Linked DNA regions of Homo sapiens. The protein of the gene in region 5 purifies or fractionates together with the protein of the main gene of each other region. This does not show direct contact. Each region holds a gene or a part of one and is shown on either strand. Other genes may lie near its edges. The genes, in order: RBM25, RPS6KC1, NPAT, XPO6, VPS39 and NME8.

What was found.
Region 1: the proteins of VPS39 (region 5) and RBM25 purify together in Homo sapiens (affinity purification with mass spectrometry; one large-scale study listed by BioGRID and IntAct). This does not show direct contact.
Region 2: the proteins of VPS39 (region 5) and RPS6KC1 purify together in Homo sapiens (affinity purification with mass spectrometry; one large-scale study listed by BioGRID and IntAct). This does not show direct contact.
Region 3: the proteins of VPS39 (region 5) and NPAT purify together in Homo sapiens (affinity purification with mass spectrometry; one large-scale study listed by BioGRID and IntAct). This does not show direct contact.
Region 4: the proteins of VPS39 (region 5) and XPO6 fractionate together in Homo sapiens (co-fractionation; one large-scale study listed by BioGRID). This does not show direct contact.
Region 6: the proteins of VPS39 (region 5) and NME8 purify together in Homo sapiens (affinity purification with mass spectrometry; one large-scale study listed by BioGRID and IntAct). This does not show direct contact.

What each region holds. Positions count from the first base shown.
Region 1 is NC_000014.9:73,100,034-73,103,533, reverse strand, and holds part of RBM25 (RNA-binding protein 25), read right to left. Parts: intron 343-3,500; coding exon 56-342; intron 1-55. UniProt on the Homo sapiens protein: RNA-binding protein that acts as a regulator of alternative pre-mRNA splicing. Involved in apoptotic cell death through the regulation of the apoptotic factor BCL2L1 isoform expression.
Region 2 is NC_000001.11:213,049,746-213,054,040, reverse strand, and holds the start of RPS6KC1 (ribosomal protein S6 kinase delta-1), read right to left. Parts: upstream 2,801-4,295; 5' UTR 2,637-2,800; coding exon 2,532-2,636; intron 1-2,531. UniProt on the Homo sapiens protein: May be involved in transmitting sphingosine-1 phosphate (SPP)-mediated signaling into the cell. Plays a role in the recruitment of PRDX3 to early endosomes.
Region 3 is NC_000011.10:108,184,639-108,188,138, forward strand, and holds part of NPAT (protein NPAT), read right to left. Parts: coding exon 3,460-3,500; intron 1,932-3,459; coding exon 1,844-1,931; intron 857-1,843; coding exon 765-856; intron 682-764; coding exon 594-681; intron 1-593. UniProt on the Homo sapiens protein: Required for progression through the G1 and S phases of the cell cycle and for S phase entry. Activates transcription of the histone H2A, histone H2B, histone H3 and histone H4 genes in conjunction with MIZF.
Region 4 is NC_000016.10:28,205,466-28,208,965, forward strand, and holds part of XPO6 (exportin-6), read right to left. Parts: intron 1-3,500. UniProt on the Homo sapiens protein: Mediates the nuclear export of actin and profilin-actin complexes in somatic cells.
Region 5 is NC_000015.10:42,166,805-42,170,304, forward strand, and holds part of VPS39 (vam6/Vps39-like protein), read right to left. Parts: intron 3,063-3,500; coding exon 2,920-3,062; intron 734-2,919; coding exon 590-733; intron 110-589; coding exon 1-109. UniProt on the Homo sapiens protein: Regulator of TGF-beta/activin signaling, inhibiting SMAD3- and activating SMAD2-dependent transcription.
Region 6 is NC_000007.14:37,893,597-37,897,096, forward strand, and holds part of NME8 (thioredoxin domain-containing protein 3), read left to right. Parts: intron 1-869; coding exon 870-1,014; intron 1,015-3,273; coding exon 3,274-3,496; 3' UTR 3,497-3,500. UniProt on the Homo sapiens protein: Probably required during the final stages of sperm tail maturation in the testis and/or epididymis, where extensive disulfide bonding of fibrous sheath (FS) proteins occurs.

The DNA.
Region 1 (3,500 bases), on a different chromosome or scaffold from region 5:
TACCCGATAGTTTTCTTAAAGCTATCAGGAAACAGTAACTTCTGTAAAGCCTTACCTTGATCGACTGCGATCCTTATTACGATCTGAGCTCCTTTCTCTATCCCGGTCACGATCTCTCTCTCGATCCCGATCTCGGTCTCTCTCTTTTGTCCGGTCACGGTCCCTATCCCGTTCTCGTTCCCGCTCCCGTTCTTTCTCCTTTTCTCGTTCACGTTCTCTTTCCCTTTCTCGTTCCCGTTCTCGCCTTTCTCGTTCCCTTTCACGCTCCCTCTCTCTTTCTCTCCGTTCTTTCTCAATTTCCTGTCTTTCTTTTTCCTTTTTGCCTTTCTCTTCTTCCAGTTTCTAGAAACCAATAAAAGCACTTTTAGAGTTAACTCTGTAGCTCCAGTATTCAGATTTTTCCCGGCGCAAAGCCCAGTACTGGGAACAAAAACACCAAACCACTGATACATTAATATTAAATACTTGTGGTTTTATGTGACAAATTAAACTGAAGCAATCACAAGACTAGAAAGATTTCGTGCAAAACCATATACTCTACACAGACCAGGAATCTCCAATCTTGGATGCTGGGAGATTGTGTCAGGTGTGGCTGGCCACTCAATGACTATGTACTAACTAAAATGACCATGAAGAATGTGGTGGTTCGAAATATTTTCTATGAATACGATCATTGGTTAAAACTCAACTCTGTGCATTATAGATTTCTGTAAATCCACAAGATTATTAATACTAATTAAAACCCCAGACTGCACATTACCTCAAGTTGAGGGTTTCAAAGGGCAAGTGGTATAGAAGAATACCTATAATGCAACTAAATAATCTCTGCCCTCTGATTTGCCCACCCTCCAAAAGAAACACAAGCTGAATTCAGCCAAGAACTGCCTTATCATCTATGGAAACATTTACTCCCACCATTACAAGATGGACAGCCCACCAAATACAAAAAGTTTGAAAATCACTCACTTCAAGCAAAATATATGTAACTGTAATAGTTTAATTTAAAATATTTAAAAGCAACATACTTATGCCCATTATGCCTGTAAGACAATGAAAATATATTTACAATGATAAATCCATCCTTGGAAGGAACGATTGTGCATTAACTTACAGATGCTGTGCTAGGACATGGATCGCCAACACTGGATTAACCTTGCCTACAAGCTATGTTTCTGGGAGGAAGAGCAAGTACATGGTTCACAAATAAACCAAATAACAAAGTCAGACCAAGTTTGTACCCTGACAAGATTACCAGTGTACCACACGGTTTCTACACAAACTCAGAAAAAAATACCCCAAACAGGTAAAACAAAACAAAACAAAACACATTTATCCCTTTTGTTTCACGTTTAGTTTCACCAAAATGAAATTTTAAACTGCAACAATAAAATGTGCATTTTTCTTTTCTCAGTCATGTAATGCATTTAAAACAACTTTAAAAAGCAATCTTACCTGTCAGATACTCTTTTTCTCTTCCTCATGGATCAGAGAACTTATAGCAGGTTATGAAAGGAAAGCTAATGTATGAGCAATATATTCAGTTGCTGTGCCAGTCTATATCGAAGTAGAATACGGGCAAAGTCAAAACTGAATACATTGAAATTACAAAGGGATGAAATAAGATATGATAGAAAGAGGACAGAAACTAACAGCTATTAAAGGGGGAAAAATCTCATTTCTGAAACAGTTCCAATGAATATAAAAATTTATATTGTAAAATGAGGCTAGACTATATAAAACTTACCTCAATGGCATACACTTATAAAGAAATTTGTTTATTTCTGAAATAGATACTTACAGAATATTTTAGCTGTTCCAATACTAATTTTTCCTGTAGAATTCCTCAATTTTTAATTCTTGCTTATTTCACTGTGCTCCTTATATTCAGTTATATAAATAACCATTTGTTTCAGAACTCATTTCAAAAGTTTGGTTCTAAGTAAATGAAAAAGTGAGTGAATCTAGTCCATACTAAATGTTTCCTGAAGTTTATATATGAGATATATATATATATATATATACACACATGTATACAAATACAGGTATACATGTAAACATACATGTATATTTTTAAAGAAAGACTGGAGAAGGGAAATGAGGTGAGTCTAAAATTATGTAAGAAAGTCATGAAGAGGAAAGGACAGATTAAAAAATCATAAATCTTACCTTATTCTCTCTTCAGACTCATCCGTGCTGTAAATGGACGCCCCCTGCCACGCTGATACCCTGACAGTCTGTGGTTATTTAATAAACTCATACCAAAACATGCAAAGGTTCACTGAGCTCATTTTTTGTTACTGGAGTTTCAAACAACCCTTTTAGCCAAACCACCCAATAAAAAACAACTGTTTTGGTTTTTCATTTTGATTTCTTTTTATTTTGAAAAGACATTCTGAAAATTCAAAACATTCCCTCCAGTGAAATAATACTAAGGCAGTAAAATGCCTAACAGATTCCCAAACTTTAAAGCAAATATATTTTTGAATTTTTCTTAAAACATGATTTCCTCATAATTTACCAATAACATGACAGGGTTTAACAAATAAATAAAAACAAAAAGGGGGTAAACCACACACACAACCATATACCATTTTTAAGCTTACTCGGTCCTGAATTTCAGTATTATACCTAACCAAAATTATTCATCTAAAATGATTTCCCATAGACCACCTTTTCAACTCTCAAAATTAATTTTGGGAGAATTATGTTTGTGCTCTTAGACACATTTAATTCTTGAAAAAGCATTGTGTTTGTGAGCAAGGGCTGGGCATCTGGATAGTAAGTGTTCAGCAGCACTGATTCATTGGCATTATTTGTGAACTGCAGATTTTGAAAGCAATGGGAAAAAGTAAGAATAAAAGAGAAAATGAACATTTAACATTTCACTGAGTTAAAGATCTCTCAGTCTATCAGTAAGAACCAGCAACACCTTATTATCTCGACCATCAAAATACATTTCATGCAGTGTTTGCATTGCACCGTTCAAAAGCATCATTTTCAACACCAGCGAACATTCACAGATGCACTGTCATTGAGAGAAGCTTCAAATAGGCAAAACTCGTGAGTGGGATTTACTATGCATAAATACCCATTTCCAAGCCAGTTACCCCTTTGCATATTTTTCTGAGGGGGCATCCATAAATATAATAAAAAACAGAAGCTCATACTTACATCCTATTCCTTGTTACTTTCCAAGCTGAGAGTTTCATCTTGCATTAGTCACCATATGATCTCTATCATAATGGTGGGGGTCAATGAATAGATTAGCTTTATGGGAATTTACAGTTCTTCCATGCATCTAAAATTTGGTAAGTCTGGTAACCACTGACCTACTGTTTAAAATCTCCCCCACTCAACTTAAATCTATACAAATATAAAATGTAAATTTTAATCTCAGCTCTAAAGAAAAGGTATTCCTAAGATCAAGTTAAATAACTGCCCCCAGAAATACACTACAGTGTATGTTATCCTGCTGCCCCCTGAATCTAATTTAAGTCTGA
Region 2 (4,295 bases), on a different chromosome or scaffold from region 5:
AACAAGGCGAAACCTCGTCTCTACAAAAAATAGACAAATTAGCCGGGTATGGTGGAGGGCGCCTGTAATCCCAGCTACTTGAGTGGCTGAGACAGGAGAATCACTTGAACCCAGGAGGCGAGGTTACTGTAAGCTGAGATAGCGCCACTGCACTCCAGCCTGGGCAAGAGAGCGAGACTACGCCTTGGAAAAAAAAAAAAAAAATTCTGAATTTGGTTAACCTTTCCTTTTGTAAAGTAACAATACAAATAATTATACTCAGTGCTTCCAATTCCAGTTCCACACACATTCATACCTCCAGGTCTTTATGGACTCTACCCCTTCAACTGTCTACCTTTTCATACCCTCTCCTTTTCTGGATTCTTCCCCTCTTTCAACTATCTTGATTGGTACATATTCCCCAATCTCTTGATCCAGAAGCAATCTGTCTTCCCACAGCCCTTTTCTGTAGTGTCTGCTGGAACTTCCTGTGTTATATCACACTTAAGTATACTAAACTCTCTTCTACTATGAGTATCCTTGAAAGGAATAAAGATCCCTGCTTTATTCAGCCTTATGTCCCTCAGTATTTAGTGCCTGGATCTAAACATTTATTGGGTGTGCTCCGTACAATGAAGAGGAAAACATTCAACAATGTTTTTCAGGCACTGTGTGCCATGCACATGCATGTTCTTTTATCTATTATTTGATATAAGCAGAAACAAATGCCAATGATAGAGAACTGCTCTAAATCCACTAAGAGACACAGACATGCAACTAAATTAATACAATATAACTTTCCTGTTAAATTAACGGATAAGTAGGATGCTGTGAGAGAAACATTACGTATGTTGAAAACTGTTCTGATTCCATACACTATGTGTTAGGAAACTAAGCCTAGATTTTCAAAGGGCCCAATGACTAGAAAGGTTTCAAGAGTGGTATAATAAGGGCCCCTCACTCTCACAAAATTTCTTACACAACCTGAAACTAACATTCCACCCATGTAACAACCTTAAGTGCAAGCAGGGAGCAACAAACATCCCTCTATTCTCCGAACAGCAATCGGCAATAGCAGGTCAGGTCTTCTCATTATCTTTATACAGACATGTTCATCTATCCCTCCTTCTCACATTTATCTGAATTGTGCACCATTTCCATACATCACGTGCCACTCCCATGCCCCAAACTGATCTATTTAACCTTTAAGATTCTTCTCAGGCTGGGTGTGGTGGCTCATGCCTGTAATCCCAGCACTTTGGGAGGCCGAGGCAGGCGGATCAACTGAGGTCAGGACTTCGAAATGAGCCTGAGCAACATGCAGAAACCCCATCTCTACTAAAAATACAAAAAATTATCAGGGCATGGTAGCACATGCCTGTAATCCCAGCTACTCGGGAGGCTGAGGTAGGAGAATCGCTTGAACTCAGGAGGCAGAGGTTGCGGTGAGCAGAGATCATGCCATTGCACTCCAGCCTGGGCAACAAGAGCGAAACTCCGTCTCAAAAAAAAAAAAATTATTCTGAAGGCCTGCTTTACATCCTCCAAATGTATATTGAACTACTGTTACTTAATCTGTACCTCTCTTCTTTAAAAATTGATAAAGTTAATTATTAACATTTTATATAACTTGGAGTTAGGCAAAACTGGTTTCAGATCCCAGACAGATCTGCTACTGCCTTGCAATGTAAAGTTGGGCAAGTTACTAAACTTGCTTTAATCTATTTCTTCCTCATTAAAATGAGAATTAAATTGGGTGATGTGCATAAAATGCCTACTATACACATATATTCATGCACACATACGTCACATACATATATACTTATTTAATTTTGATTTATTCTTACTTTCCTAGAAGATGCAGACTCTCTTTAAAACTCAAGGCAAAAGCAATGAAACATAAAGTGGGTACTAAAAATTGGACCAGTTAGTTGATGTAAAGGAGCCTCCCAACTTTAAAATGTGCCCTCATGGTAGCTCACACAAGCCACCCTCAGCAGATTTTTTTCACGTCTCCTACTGAAAAACATGAAAAACTCAAAGGTTTGACAAAGCCCGGATCCACAGTTCCTAGGTTGGTGGCCTAACACTGACATCTGTCCCAAGAATCTGTCTTTCTCACAGCAAACCTGATAAAGGTCAAGAGAAAAAACAACTTATATTACATAAGCCAAACAATACATAAATTAACACTTTTTAATCTGCATTATCTTCCTGGAGCAAGCAAAACCACTTCTGCAAATTGCGAACTCAGAAGAGAAAGTCCAAACGGGATGGGAACTGAGTCATCAATTTAAAACCATCAACCACTGACTGCCCCACCCCCAGAAAGAGGACTCTACCACGACCTACTACAGTGAAGCCCTGGGCATATCACACTCAGCCACTACTCTAAAAATCCCAACCTCCGACACCCAAGTCCCGCCAGTAGGAGCAGCACCCAGTCCCACCCTCGGCTCTGAGCCAGAGTCAGGTACCCTCACATCAGGGTCCCCACCCCAGATCCTCAGGTCCCAATCCAAGCTCTACCCCAGCCCGACACCGGCACTCACCCGGGCGGTGACCTTATATACTGTGTAGCCCCTCGGGTGTCGCTGGGGCTCGGTGACAGTGTAGAAACGGGCCAGGTCGGCACTCCGCTCCCGGTAAGAGGTCATCCTCCCGCCGCCTCTGCCGCCGCCGCCACCCGCCCGGGATCATGAGGGAAACCCGGCGCCGCCGCGGTCCAGGTTCCCCAACGCAGCGGCGAAGCGGCGAGGGGGCGGTGGCTCCAAGGCGGCTCCACGGCGGCGCCTCAGCTGCACAGCTCTGCTTCCGGGTCAGCAGAGAAGCTTCCGGGCCAGGCTATCTCCCGCTTCTAGGGGGAGGGGAGACTCCTCCTTAGATTCTAGCCCCTTTGGGGCACCTGGGACTGGCCTGTAGTTGAAGACTAAGGGGTCGCGCTGCCACCCCCGTCACTGCGGAGACCTCAGGCCTCTCCACTAAAGACGACCTCTTGTACGCTAGCTCCGTCACCTTTTATGAGATTTTATGAGAGTTGGTATAGCCACGCCACACCGGGAGAGCGTGGTCCTCCCTGCCTCCGCCCCGCCGTGGTACAAACTTAAGTGGAGTGTTGAAGGGATGGAGAGATACCATAGCCTAGCACCTTCTTTCCTTACCTATTCACAGCCTATCATTTTAAATACCCACAGCAACATCTCATTCTCTGAGACATATCCCTTACTTCTTTCTAAGACGAATTTCCTTCCATTGAGCGCCTTTCTGTAACACATCTGCACAGCAAGCCCCCAACCCAAAAAAGCTCCCAAGCCAATATCAATCTTTTAAAAATCCCCACAGGTTCGAAAATCTGGAGTCCGCCTCTGGCTAGAAGAAAGAAATATGTCACTCGACCTCTCCGAGTCACTCACTACAGTTTCCAATTTCAGCTGAGGTTGTTATCAACGCTTGGCAGTTCCTTTATCTTTTTGTGATCAAGGTTCCTTTTCATTCCACAAAATATTCATGCCAAGTCTTTGCCATTATCCTAAAGACTCTGTTCCTCTTCCTTTTGCCTCCCTACTCTCCGCACCACCACTCTTCTTTACAGGGAAAAAAGAAGAGGAAGAAGCAGCTATGGCCCTTAGTACCAATTCCTTTGTCTTCTCACATTTCCATGCCAGTCTGAAACGTACACATATCACTTGCTCATTTTTACAGCTAATGACTCCACATGTGATCTGAATCCCATCCTCTTTGGCAAACCTTAAGACACTGTTTCAATGACATTCCAAATCTCCTTTCTGTATGTTTAATCTCTTTCTCACCACTGGCTCCTTCTTTTCAACCTACATATATCTAAGTCTATTAGTCATTCATTAAACCTGAATTCACCACCTACTATGTGCCAGACATGATGCCAATTTGGCATTGGAGTTACAAAGATAGTCCCTGTTCTCCGACCGGGCGCGGTGGCTCACGCCTGTAATCCCAACACTTTGGGAGGCCGAGGCGGGCGGATTACCTCAGGTCAGGAGTTCGAGACCAGCCTGGCCAACATGGTGAAACCCCGTCTCTACTAAAAATACAAAAAATTAGCCAGGCGTGGTGGCAGGCGCCTGCAATCCCAGCTACTTGGGAGGCTGAGGCAAAAGAGTCGTTTGAACCCGGGAGGTGGAGGTTTCGGTGAGCCAAGATCGCACCATTGCACTTCAGCCTGGGGGACAAGAGCAAGACTTCTCTCAAAAAAAAAAAAAAAAAAAAAAAGGTAGATAGTCCCTGTTCTCAAGTACCATCTAGTAGGAAAAATAAAGACACAAAATATACTGTGATAA
Region 3 (3,500 bases), on a different chromosome or scaffold from region 5:
TCCTGCTTCAGCCACCCGAGCTGCTGGGATAACAAGCATGTGTCATGATGCCCATATAATTTTTGTATTTTTGGTAGAGATGGGATTTCACCATGTTGGCCAAGCTGGTCTCGAATTCCTGGCCTTAAGTGATCTGCCCTCCTTGGCCTGCCAAAGTGCTGGGATTACAGGCATTGAGCCACCATGCCTGGCCCCATTACATATCTTTATTGTATCATTTCATTGTTTCTCTAAATTATTATACAATTTGTAGCAGTGTAGAAGAAATGTAATTTATATAAACACTGTATTACTGTTTATTACACACAAATATACCCACTAATAAATGTTTAAGTATTGAATACTTAGGAATCCATGACTGTGGATGCAATATAGATTCTATTTTAAGTCATCATCCAATGTGTTTTTCAGGAACAGACTGCATTCAATGAATGAAGAAAAGTTTTATCTTACTATTGTAAATCATTTTATCTAATTAGATGGCAAATCATAACATCTTATGTTGGCAATGGTTTTGAAATGAAACCAAAATTACCATCAATCTTAAGTATAAGTAACACACACGCACCCATGCACACCCCAACCACCCATACCGGAAGTCCTAGGAATTCATCAATTGAAGTCTCTGGCTCCGTAGGGTTGTTATCTGTTTGCTTAGGTACTTGGGCAATATTGTTATCACTGTTAATAAAGAAAGAAAAATCTTTATTATAGTTATGCAATTAGGCAAAAACAATTAGGCATTTTAAACATATATAGCTTACCTAGTTAAAAATTTATTTATGTTTTCTGCTAGCTTTTCTTGAAGAGATTTGTTGCTTAGTATTTTTTCTCGTGCATTTTCAATAACCATTTGCTGGAAAAGAAAGCCACTGTTAGCAAAAGGACAATAAAGAGTATTCTGCTATTTAATATTTATAAGAAAAGAACAAACCGATAAGAGCTGGATAGTTTTAATAAACCTAAATGGAAACTCAGAAGTTGTGATGGCTCCCTCCATATTAATACCTGAATACAACACTTCATAATTTGCAAATGTTTTCACAGATCTTTCACCAACTCTTTCTTATACAGTTCCACACTCATCATCAAACCCCAGTAAATGCCCTATTTTTACAGTGTCGCTCTATAGCCCAGCCTGGAGTACAGTGGCACAATCTCAGTTCACTGCAACCTCCACCTCGCAGTTCAAGCAATTCTTGTGCCTTAGCCTCCTGAATAGTAGCTGGGATTACGGGCGTGTGCCATCACACCCAGCTAATTTTTGTATTTTTAGTAGAGACAGTTGTCCAGGCTGGTCTTGAATTCCTGGCCTCAAGAGATCCGCTGGCTTTGGCCTCTCAAAGTGCTGGGATTACAGGTACAAGCCACTACTCGCCGGCCAGTTTTTTTTTTTGAGACAGGGTCTGACTCTGTCACCCAGGCTTGAGTGTAGTGGTATGATCATGGCTCACTGCAGCCTTGACCTCCCAGGCTCAAGCAGTCCTCCCATCTCAGCCTCCCAAGCAGCTAGGACTACAGGCACGTGCTACCACACCTAGCTAATATTTGTATTTTTTGTAGAGAGGGGGTTTTACCATGTTGCCCAGGTTGGTCTTGAATTCCTGAGCTCAAGCAATCTGCCCACCTCAGCTTCCCAAAGTGCTGGGATTACAGGTGTTTGCCATAGCACCTGGCCAGTATTTTATTAAATGATCCAACAACAACAATGTATTTACAGATATCTATAAACTTACTCCTGTTTCTTTATTTGATACATACACACATACATACATTTGTGTATATATCTGTATTTTTAAACTCAGGAATATTTTAAGTTGCAAAGTTTGGCAGAGTCACTTACTTTTTCTACTGCAAAAGCGTTTGGATCTTGGAAATTCCGTATTGTTGAATGAGGGCCAGACAAAGTGGTACTTTTTCTCTGAGATTCACTGAAACACATTTTAAAAGCTTTTCTTTTAACCACTATATTTAACAGATTTAAAGATAAATACATATACAGACATAAATTTTAAGATCACCATAACAGAACAGATACAGTTGTCCCTGTATCTGCAGGGGGCTGGTTTCAGGACCCCCAAGGATATCAAAATCCACATGTACTCAAGTCCTACAGTCTGCACTAGGAAGCCCATGTATTCAAAAAGTCAGCACACTGCATATAGGCAGGTTTTACTACTAAATTTTTAATCTGTGTTCGGTTGAAAAAAACTTGAGTATAAATGAACCCATGCAGTTGAAACCCATGTTATTCAAGGTCAACTATATTTTCTCTATTTGTGTTAGGAACAAAGGGAAGTACAAAAAGTATTAGTAGTCTTGAATTCAAAAAAATGAGTTTGAAGTCTAGCTTTACCACTTACTACCTATGGTCTGAAGCACAGCAAGCTCTGACTCTCTAACCTACTTTATAATGACCAACTGCATTATTGGGTTTACTAAAGAATGGAATGAAATAAAGTATATATAAAGACTTTATTTAAAAAGTCAGGGTTCCTATAAATGTTAAATATTAATGTTGCTCTTTTATGGCTGGGCATGGTGGCTCACATCTGTAATCCCAGCAATTTTGGAGGCCAAGGTGGGAAGATCACTTGAAGCCAGGAGTTTCAGACCAGCCTGGGCAACAAAGTGAGACCCCCATCTCTACAAAAAATAAAAAAATTAGCTGGGTGTGGCGGCATGTGCCTGTGCTGCTGGCTACTGGGGAGGCTAAGGTGGGAGGATCTTCTGAGCCCACAAGTTCGAGGCTGCAGTGAGTTATGATTGTACCACTATACTCTAACCTGGTCAAGACAGCAAGGCCCTATCTCTAAAAATAAAAAAATGGATATTGCTGTTTGTTATTTTATATGGTGAAGTGAGAAAGGCTCCAATAAAGGAGGCTAACTAAGGTCAGTCTTGAATGAAAGACAACCAAAAGTAAAAACTCTAACAAAAATACCCAGGGCTTGGGAGCTAAGAAACTAGAATAAACATTTTAAAACTATTATCTCTTTCAAAAAATATCCTTCAAACAAAGACACACTTTTCTCAAAAGTGTTTTGGGAAAAACACTTTTCTCAAAGATTGTGCCTGGAAAAATTCCATCAATTGATCTTAGGACTTTAAATGTGTGTGGAGCATAGAACATAACTGTATTATTTACATTCAGTTAAAAAACATGGATTGCAAAAAATCTCAGATAACATCATTTGTAAGATATACCATTATTTTATATACCATTACAGAATAAACATATTTCCCATGAAACAGTGATATGCCATTAATTGAGAGATGCAACCCAATTTCAGGCAGGTTAAAATGTGAAGAAAGACAATGTATTTTGGAATAGTTCTAATATAGATCAGAACATAATCTGGTCCTATTAGTTTATTCACAATGTAAGTATCCTGATGTAATTCTTTTTTTTTTTTTTTAATGGATACGGGTAACTTGTCTCTTTTAAAAAGCATTTACCTTTTGCGTCTACCGGGAGACATTAAACTGGCATGTGCTTT
Region 4 (3,500 bases), on a different chromosome or scaffold from region 5:
TCTTCTCAGCCAATCTCTCTCAGGTCAGTACCTATGCAATCTTTGTACCAATGCCCCTTTGCACCAACACATTCTTCTACTATCACCTGTATCACAGTCTCTTGTATTTTCAGAGTATGTTGACTTATCTTCCCCACTAAACTGACTCCCAGAGGGCAGGGGCAGTATTAAATATTACCCTGGAAGTGTAACGGTTATGAGCAGTGACTCGCTGTGTGACCTTGGGAAGTTGCCTAACCTCTCAGTGCACTGAATGTCAGCTATAAAACATGAAATGAAAGCTGCCTTTAAGCCAGGCATGGTGGTTCACGCCTGTAATCCCAGCACTTCGGGAGGCCCAGACGGGTGGATCATGTGAGGTCAGGAGTTCAAGACCAGCCTGGCCAACATAGTGAAACCCCATCTCTACTAAAAATACAAAAATTATTCAGGCATGGTGGTGCGCACCTGTAGTCCCAGCTACTCGGGAGGCTGAGGCAGGAGAATCGCTTGAACCCAGGAGGTAGAGACTGCAGTGAGCTGAGATCACGCCACTGCACTCCAGCCTAGGCGACAGAGCAAGACTGTCTCAAAAAAAAAAAAAAAAAAACTGCCTCTACCTCCTAGAGTTGTTTGGGACAGTAAATGGGTTCATAGGTTCATAGATGTAAGATGCCTGGCATATAGAAAGCAATACACACACACACACACACACACACACACATATTAACTATTATATTGTTAGATTGTAACCACAGTACCTAGGGTTGTAAACTTCATAGCAGGAAGTCAATACATTATTTCATGATTATTTGGCCTGGTGTGGTGGCTCGCGCCTGTGATCCTAGCACTTTGGGAGGCTGAGGCAAGAGGACTGCTTGAGATCAGAAGTTCAAGACCAGGCTGGACAACATAGCAATCCCCACTCTCTACAAAAAATAAAAATAAAAAAATTAGCTGGGCATGGTGGCATGGGCCTGTAGTCTCAGCTACTGAGGAGGCTGAGGTGGGAGGATTGCCTTGAGACCAGGAGATCGAGGTCACTATGAGCTGTGACTGTGCTGCTGCGCCCCAGCCTGGACAACAGAGCAAGACCCTGTCTCAAAAAATAAATAAATATATAATAAATATAAAAACCAATAACAAAAACTCTGGCTTAATCTACCTATTTCTTTATACTACATTAATTTTGCTGACCACATTTTGGTTTTATCAGGTGATTTGAACCATATCATATACTAATTTTTTCAGAAGCTATTCAAGTCATTTCTTGACAGGTAACTTTTTCTCCAGACTTTCTCTAATGCTGTGACTGACATACAAAACCTCTGGGTACTGCTGAACCTTTCCCTGCCATCTCCCTGCACCCCCATGTCTTCTTTGTACCTCTGAGAGCATGGGGTACAATGCAATGCTGTGGATGAACAAGTGGATGACATGCCATGTGAGTGGCTAAATTTCAGTTCTGATTCTGCCTCCATTACAGGGGCCACTCACGGTAACTGATATTAAAAAAATAAGGCTAGGTGTGGTGGCTCCCACCTGTAATCCTAGCACTTTGGGAGGCCAAGGTGGGCAGATCATCTGAGGTCTGGAGTTCGAGACCAGCCTGACCAACGTGGTGAAACCCCATCTCTACTAAAAAACACAAAAATTAGCCGGGTATGGTGGTGGGTGCCTGTAATCTCAGCTACTCAGGAGGCTGAGGCAGGAGAATTGCTTGAACCTGGGAGGCAGAGGTTGCAGTAAGCCAAGATCGTACCACTGCACTCCAGCCTGGGTGCAAAAGCAAGATGCCATCTCAAAAAAAAAAAAGGAAAGAAAGAAAGAAAGAAAACAAACCTTAGCAGGCAATTCAATTTCTAAGCAACTAAAAAAGAAATGCTAATATAAGCAAAAACTCAATTTTGCACACAATTTTCATATTAAGCAACAGCTCGCTCAATACTAAGTAATAATTTCTCAGCAAAGTAGTGGGAACCTCTAACATGTCACACCACTTAAGAATCCATGGGAATGCAACAAAAAATGATTTAATCAAATACAGTTATAGTATGCTAGCTCTTCCTGTAATTCTATACTGCAACTATAAATCTTTTTAAACTGGTTCTAAATGTGAAGGTCAACAGGGATAGTGTAAACAAAATTCCCCATACTCCCTATGCTCCACCACTATCTATCTCTAAGCCAAACAACATACAGGTGGAAGACTCTCCTGATCTTCCTTCCCATGAGGCAGCACCCAAAGAGCACAGGCTCCGGAGTACAGCACTTTGGGTCTAAATGCCAACTCCACCACTTGTCAACTAGGAATCACAGAGCAGGTCTGTCCATCTCCCGCTCTGGCAGGAACAGCCATAGTGGAACCTAGCAGAGTTGGTGGGGTTTACTGATACTGAATGACTAAGAGAAAAACTTGGCCAGGCGCAGTGGCTCACGCCTATAATACCAGAACTTTGGGAGGCCAAGGCGAGTGGATCACCTGAGGTCAGGAGTTCGAGACCAGCCTGGCCAACCTGGTGAAACCCCATTTCTACTAAAAATACAAAACAAAAAAAAAAACTAGCTGGGCGTGCCTGTAATCCCAGCTACTCAGGAGGCTGAGGCTGGAGAATCATTTGAATCCAGGAGGCAGAGGTTGCAGTGATCCAAGATCATGCCACTACACTCCAGCCTGGGTGACAGAGCGAGACTCCGTCTCAAAAAAAAGAAAGAAAAAACAAGTAATGAGTGAAGAATAGCTAGCACATCAAAGATGCTTAATAAGTGGTAGTTTTTATCACATTACGCCACTTTCAAGTCTTATTAGAGTTGAAGATTTAAAAAGAAGATGTTAAAAGGGCTCAAACTTATGCCAACTAATACCCTTAAAAGTAAAAATGTTAAGTCAGCAAGAAATGGAGAGGAAATAATTTCCTGGAATAAAGAGCTGGGATCCCAGGGAAAAGACCCTCCGCCTGTAAGACACCAGCCAGGCAACAGTTTCCTTACCTTTGGGGGACAGGGCCTACCCTACCCAAGCCCCTGACCCTGGGATACCTACAGATGAACCACTGTGTCAGTGACACAAAAAGGACAATCCTATTCACATCAACTATGGCCACCCCCTGTGTACTTAAATAACTGAGGTCTAGGTGACAAAAACTTTGACTTGCAACGTACCTCAGAAAAAATGCACATGGAGTTCATGAAGCCAACTACTTTACAATTCATTACTCAAAGGTGGTCATTCCCATGATGCTCTACTGACTGCCAATTAAAATGAAACCTCAATACAAGGGTGCTGGGCTAGCTCAGTCAATAACAAAATTCTGTCCAAGGGTCCTAAAGCAATGCTGTAAGTTTCCCAAGGGGAGGAATGTGTGTCTTGTTCATCTGTACATGCCCTAGGCCCTGGTATATGGTGGTGGCTACTGAAAATTCACTTGTAAGATTTGTACACCCATATTCACAGCAGTATTATTCACAATAGCCAAAGGGTGGAAGCAACCCAGGTATCCACCGAAGGATGAAAGGATATA
Region 5 (3,500 bases):
TGATAAGCTCACTGTACTTGTGAGCCTTCTTTAGCACGTGCTCGCTCTCCTCGATGTGGCAGTGATTGTTCTCCAGGCGTAGCAAGGGGGCCACCAGGGCCACATTTGTCTGCAGAAAGAGCAGGAGTTCAGTGGAAACTGCTTCCTGGGGAGCCCCACCCTTCCCTGGCCCAGGCCTGCTCTAGGCTGAAAGGCCAGGAATGTAGCACAAGCAAGAGAAAGCAGACAGCCCTCTTTCAGGACAGCAGGTAGAGGCTTTTAGAGCATTTATGGACCTTCGCACAATGTGTTTTAATGTTCTGTGGGGGAGAACATTTCTTGAAGGAAATACTGTCCCAGCTGACTTTGTAGCACTAACTGCAATCCGACCAGAGAAGATGAATCCACTGTACAATTGTGCATTGATATCTTGCCCTATCCTCTTAATTCCAAGAGACTCACAGACATCAGGAGAAGTCTATATGGTTTCCAGAATCAAAGACTTCACTCTTACTAATGGCAGGTCCCTCAGGGTCTAGCACTCCCTTTTACTTTCCCAGACTGTCAGGGTAACTGGGAATTGTGGCACCCGAGCGCTCAGGTAACTCACATGGAGATAGCACTTGAGCAGGGTGGTGTCGATGATTTGTAGCAGCTTCTTCTTGGATTTGATGGTGGGAGTGCCTTCCATGAGCGGTGAGGTGCTTGACTGGTGATCAGAGTCATTCAGCTTCTTTACCAATTGACTTCGTTTCTGCAAAGGTCAAAATGTGGGGTTAAGGCCAGGACTAAGTCTTCCTTTGTCATCTGAGCTACTGGGTAATTCTGAATACCTCCAATCAGCTCATGCCTATTGGCCTGATCTCACATTAGCATTCGATTTTTAGCACTGCCAAATTGCCACAGAGACAACAACAATTATTTATTGAATATTTACTACAGACCAGGCACCATGCCAAGCACTTTATATATACCATCTTAAACCTAAAACAAGTGCCGATAATATTATCCTTATTTTACAGGTGAGGAACCCAAGGCACAGGTGTCAGCTGCTACATAAGGGGTAGGGCAGGATTCACACTGGGGGCTGACTCCAAAGCCCATGTTCTTTTATTTTTTTAAAAATCAACCTTATTGAGGTATAACTTACAATAAAATCTAATCTTTTAAAGTGTACCATCAGATACATTTTGACAGATGTGTACATGCATGTAACCACCTCAGTGAAGGAAGATAACATTTCTATCACTCCAGAAAGTTCCTCGTGCTATTCCCAAACAATCCCACCTACTGATCTGCTTTTGATCCCTGGAGATGAGTTTCTGCCTATCCTAGAACTTCATCCAGTATGTATTCTCTTGAGTCTGGCAGAGCCCATGGTCTTGCTCTGCCATCTCTCTGGCACAATACTAGTGTCAGTTACTTCACACATTCCCATTGTCAGTGAAGAAGGCCAGGGAAGGACGTGTGCTCACCTTCCTACAGCTAAGACATTGGCAGTGGAGGGCCTTCCACAATGCCACTGGCTTTGGGAGATAGTATGCCCAGGAATCTTTTTTACTTAGCACAGTGTGTGCAGTGTGTAGGCAGTGGCAAGTTTGTGTGCTCCTTGCAGGCTGCCAGCCCCAGGAGGGTACCCCTGGAGCCCAATGTCAAGGAAGGGCCAAGGCCACCCATGCCTGATCAGACCTGCAGGGACTCACTGACCCAGAGGCAGGGAGTGGAAAGTGGCATGACAATTTTTCCAGCAATACTTCTTCTTTTTTTTTTTTTTTTTTGAGACAGAGTCTCACTCTGTTGCCCAGGCTGAAGTGTAGTGGCGCAATCTCGGCTCACTTCCACCTCTGCCTCCTGAGTTCAAGCAATTCTCCTGCCTCAGCCTCCTGAATAGCTGGGATTACAGGCGTGGGCCACCACACCCAGCTAATTTTTGTATTTTTAGTAGAGACTGGGTTTTGCCATGTTGGCCAGGCTGGTTTCGAACTCCTGACCTCAGGTGATCTTCTGTCTCAGCCTCCCAAAGTGCTGGGATTACGGGCATGACCCACCACACCCGGCCAACAGCAATACTTCTCAGTGCCTACCCTAGAGCATTCTGGAGACCTCTTACAAAGATCTGCAAAACACTTAAGAGGAAAAAATATCAATAAGGTCTCTGATTCTGAATGGGTACACAGGAAATAAACAATAGCCTTCTGTGACAGAAATCTAGGGTTAAGAGACTTTAATGGAGATGCTGGCTTTAGTGCTGACTTAAAAAATGTATCTGTCTATAACAGTAAATCATAAAAAATTTTAAATCTAAATACCTCCCTAAAAAACATGTTATATAAGGACATTTATTGATAAGGAAGTACTTTCTCAGTATATGGCTAAATTTTTAAAAAGTTAAGCTATAAAACAATCTACAATTTGATATCCATTTGCAATAAATAAACCAAGAAGTAAATAAACAAAAGCTAATTCATAGATATACAAGTCTAGAAGGACAACACTAAAATGTTAGTTTCTTACATTCTGGTGGTAGAGTTATAGGTAATTTGTATTTCTGCTTTGTACTTTTTTGTGTGTGTTTTCCAAGTGGTTCCACATACAGGAGGCATTTTCCCCAAAACCATGTATATTACAAAAAGTTTGTTTTAAAAAAACTTGTATGCTTCTATCAACTAAAATTTACTTTTTTTAGTTTCTATAACAGCTTTGTGTGAATTTACTAGGAATTGGGTGTGTTTATTTTTATCAAGATTTGGCAGAAAACCCCACCTCAATGGTACTGTAAAGTTAGAAGTAGCAGAAAGAAACTTTACCCCAGGCAGACTTCCTACAGCATTAATTTACAGACTGCCTTGGCATTAGAGAAGGCCCTCAATTCCTTGCCACAAAGAAACAAGTACTGAAACTCCCAGGCAAACTCTTTCACGCACTCTGTACTATACCTACCTGTGTCAGGTAGTCAATCAGAGCTAAGTGAGCCTTCTCCAATTCAGCCCCGGAGAGCACAGGCAATGGGTTGGGATACTGCAACTGCTTTCTGTAGTCTGTGGGCAGCAGGTCAGGGTACAGGCCCATCACATGGGTGGGATCTATATGGAAGGTAAACATGATTCCTCTGGAAAGGAGCCCAACAATTTAGGGATAAAATAAAACAGGACTATTACTATAGCAAAATAAGTTCCAGACTGATTTAAAAAAAAAAAAAAGACTCTCAGTTCATAAACATTCAACGAGCTGTAGACTTATGATTTGAGCACTTTTTATACATATGTTAAAATTCACTAAAACATCACAAAAATGCCTGACTATATTCAAATACACACACATAATTAGAATTGAATATTTATCAAGCCTCTGAAAGTAGAGAATAAAAAATTTCTAAGGAAAAATGCTGATATTGAAGTAGAAGAGATCAAGAGACTCAACAATAAAAAATTTAAGTCAAAAAAAGAAACATTACTAAAAAAAAAGACAACAGGCTAGGGAATATATTTGTAGTATATATGGCAAGAGGCTAATTTGTTGAT
Region 6 (3,500 bases), on a different chromosome or scaffold from region 5:
TACCATGCTTAACACAAAGGTCAGTGTCTCTGTGAAGTCATCCCTGACCTCTCCAGAGAAAGTTAATTGTTTTCTCACCTGTGGTTCTGGGGACCTTATATATTACTCTATAATAATGATCACTTTCTCATGATATCTTTATAGGCCTTGCTCTCTGTTGAGACAGTCTCTGAGGAAAGGTTTATGTTTTCTTCCCTTTCATTTCTGCAGTGCCTGTCTTAGGGCAGATCCTGGCCACCTCCCTTCCAGCAGGAGAGGTCCAGCCTTCTCCAGGCTGTCTGTTGGTTATAATCATATTGCCTTTAGCTCCCAGACCACTCTATGTGCTTTTGATCTGGAGCAAAGAAGAGGCCGTTTTACCAGAAAGCTCCCAGTTTCTCAGTTGGTTCACCTTTGTCTCTAGAATGTAGCCCTCAAAACTTAGGCTGTTGGTGAGATTTTGACAACATTTGCTTTGTTTAATTCCCTCGATGGTACTCTGATTCTTCAGGGAGAAGAGTTCAGATTGGCTTTATCCTTCAATCCATATCTAGCAAGAAATTCCTTGGCATTTGTAGTATGAAGGTGAAAATAGATCTTTATTCTTAGCATGAGAGCAGGTCCCTTCCCCTTCTACTCTTGTGGCCTACTAGGTGTTTCAGGTGGTTTCTGGAAAGGTGAGCCTCAGAGACTGAAAATCTACATTAACATACTGAAGTTCTGAATGTCAATTTGGTGCTTTGGAATTTTAATTTCGTTTGGCAGAGTTTTGCCATGTTAAACCACAATATGCAAATTAAACTATCATTTTCCTTAGTTATTTCAGTCTACTTGAGTATGGAGGAAAAGTGAAGCAATCTGCAATATTATCAAATATTTGTTTTTCTTAGAGCAGATCCTGAAGATAGTTAAGGAGGCTGGATTTGATCTGACACAGGTGAAGAAAATGTTCCTAACTCCTGAGCAAATAGAGAAAATTTATCCAAAAGTAACAGGAAAAGACTTTTATAAAGATTTATTGGAAATGTTATCTGTGTAAGTTTCTGATACATAATTGTTTGCATTATAAAAGTGGTAAATGTTCATTATAGAAACTTTGAAAAATGCAAAAATTAATTAAAACATTTCATCTAATCTCATTCATGAAAAGACATTCTGCTAACATTCATGGTTCATCTTTTTTCTATTTCCTTACCTCCCTCCCTATCTTCTTTTCTCTCTCTCATTCTGTCTCTCCTCGCTCCCTTTCTTTCATTCTTTCTTCCTTCCTACTTTCCTTTCTCCCTTTCCTTCCCTTCCCTTCCCTTTCCTTTCCTTTCTTTTCCTTTCCTTTCCTTCCTTCCTTCCTGTTTCTCTAGGTCTTCACATTAGATATAGAGGCTGCCTCAGTTCAAACCGCTGCTTCGCCAACATACTTAATTGTTGCCTGAGTTTCCTTATCTGTTGAATGGGAATAATAATAGTATCTATCTAATAGGCTTGTTGGCAGGGCTACATAATTGATGTGTTGAAAGTACCTAGAACAGTGCATGACAGATATTAAACACTTGATAAATGTTAGCTATGATTATTCACATCTTTTTTTACATGTGTTGATACCTTGTCAAACTATGTATACATAATAACATAAATATTACGATAAGAAATACACTCTTTTAAAACTTCTTTCTACATGATGCATCTGTTCCTGACAACACATACTTTTATAACCACCACATAGAAATTACAGGCTAACATTTATTGTTTCCTTAATTCCAGGCCTTGTGATGAGCTGTACACACTTTATTTCATTTGACTCTTATAATAATAACTCTGTGAAGTAGTTTTACTAGAATTTCCACTTTGATTTTGAGAGAACATAGGACCAGGGCTAGAAGTTGTCCGCAGTCACAAAACTAGTGTTTCGCTGGGTCCTGAACCCAGGGAGTCTCTGCTTTTAACTGCTGCTTTCCAAAACTCTCTTTTACACAGAGTTCATAATTATGTGAACATCATTATCGATTTACTATGAGTTACATGTCTTTTCTATTTTATATATATTACACATCAAAAATTTTCTATACAGTCATGCTTTGCAGTACAATATTTCAGTCAATAATGAATCACATGTACAGCAGTAGTCCCATAAGATTATCATGGAGCTGAAAAATTCCTATTGCCTTAGTGACATCGTGATCATTGTAATGCAATGCATTACCATTTGTGTTCATATATGTTTAGATACACAAATAACACTGTATTACAGTTGTCTACAGTATTCAGTATAGTAACATGCTATACAGGTTTATAGCCCAGGAGCCATAGGCTGAACCAGATAGCCTAGGTGTGTAAGAGGCTATTCTATCTAGGTTTCTGTAAGTATATTCTAGGATGTTTGCACTACAATGAAATAACCTAATGTCACATTTCTCAGAAAGTATCTGCATTATTAAGAGGTACATGACTGTACATACACACACACATGCACACACACACACGTGTGTATAAAATACGTATAAGAAACCTCTTTAATTGCATGTCTTCTCTTTTTTCAGTTCCTGACAATTTGTCAATGAGTTTAGGAAGGCAGAATTTATAAAGTTAACAAAATTTAATGGAATATATGTGCTATTGAGATATAAATAATAAGCAGAAGCCTAGGACTGTACCATGACAGCTTAGAAAACTAACTTTCATACTTATTGCAGGTTGCATTTTCTGGGAAGCTGGAAGTTTCTTGTTCAGGCTATTGAGTAATGATGCCATGAGGAAGACAGGGCAAAGAAGCAGGATGGGGATGACGGCAAGTCAAGATGTAGTGCAGACCAGACAACAGCCTCTGCTAACCACAGCTAGATTGGTCTATCAGAGTTGTCCAGTATTGGCTGAGATGACCAGGCTGTTGTATGCTCACATCACTCAGTTACTTGAAGTAGGCCATCCTGGCAATGAGGATGGCCTGAGCAAGGCTATCTTAACTTGAGGCAATCCCTGAAGCGGTTAGAGGCTGCTGGACAACCATAAAGCAACAAGTCTTGAATCCATGACAATGTCTCTATTTACAGACCTCAAAGTAGCAAAATAATAAGACTTCATTGACAAATATTCTCTAGAATTAAATTATAGCACCCACCTAGCATATAAACCTATTAGAAGAGGGAGAAATGAAAAAAAGAAAGTACATGATTGCACTGATAAGGACAAAGAATAAAAAGGAGCTCCCTGGCTCAGGCTGCAGTGTTCTGTCTTTAGCCTTGTTTGCAGTGTCAACAGTTTTCAGTAGGCTGGGTCTTCTGAAAGCACCGTTCTTTGCAGGGGTCCATCTATGGTCATGATTCTGACCAAGTGGAATGCTGTTGCAGAATGGAGACGATTGATGGGCCCAACAGACCCAGAAGAAGCAAAATTACTTTCCCCTGACTCCATCCGAGCCCAGTTTGGAATAAGTAAATTGAAAAACATTGTCCATGGAGCATCTAACGCCTATGAAGCAAAAGAGGTTGTTAATAGACTCTTTGAGGATCCTGAGGAAAACTAAAGTA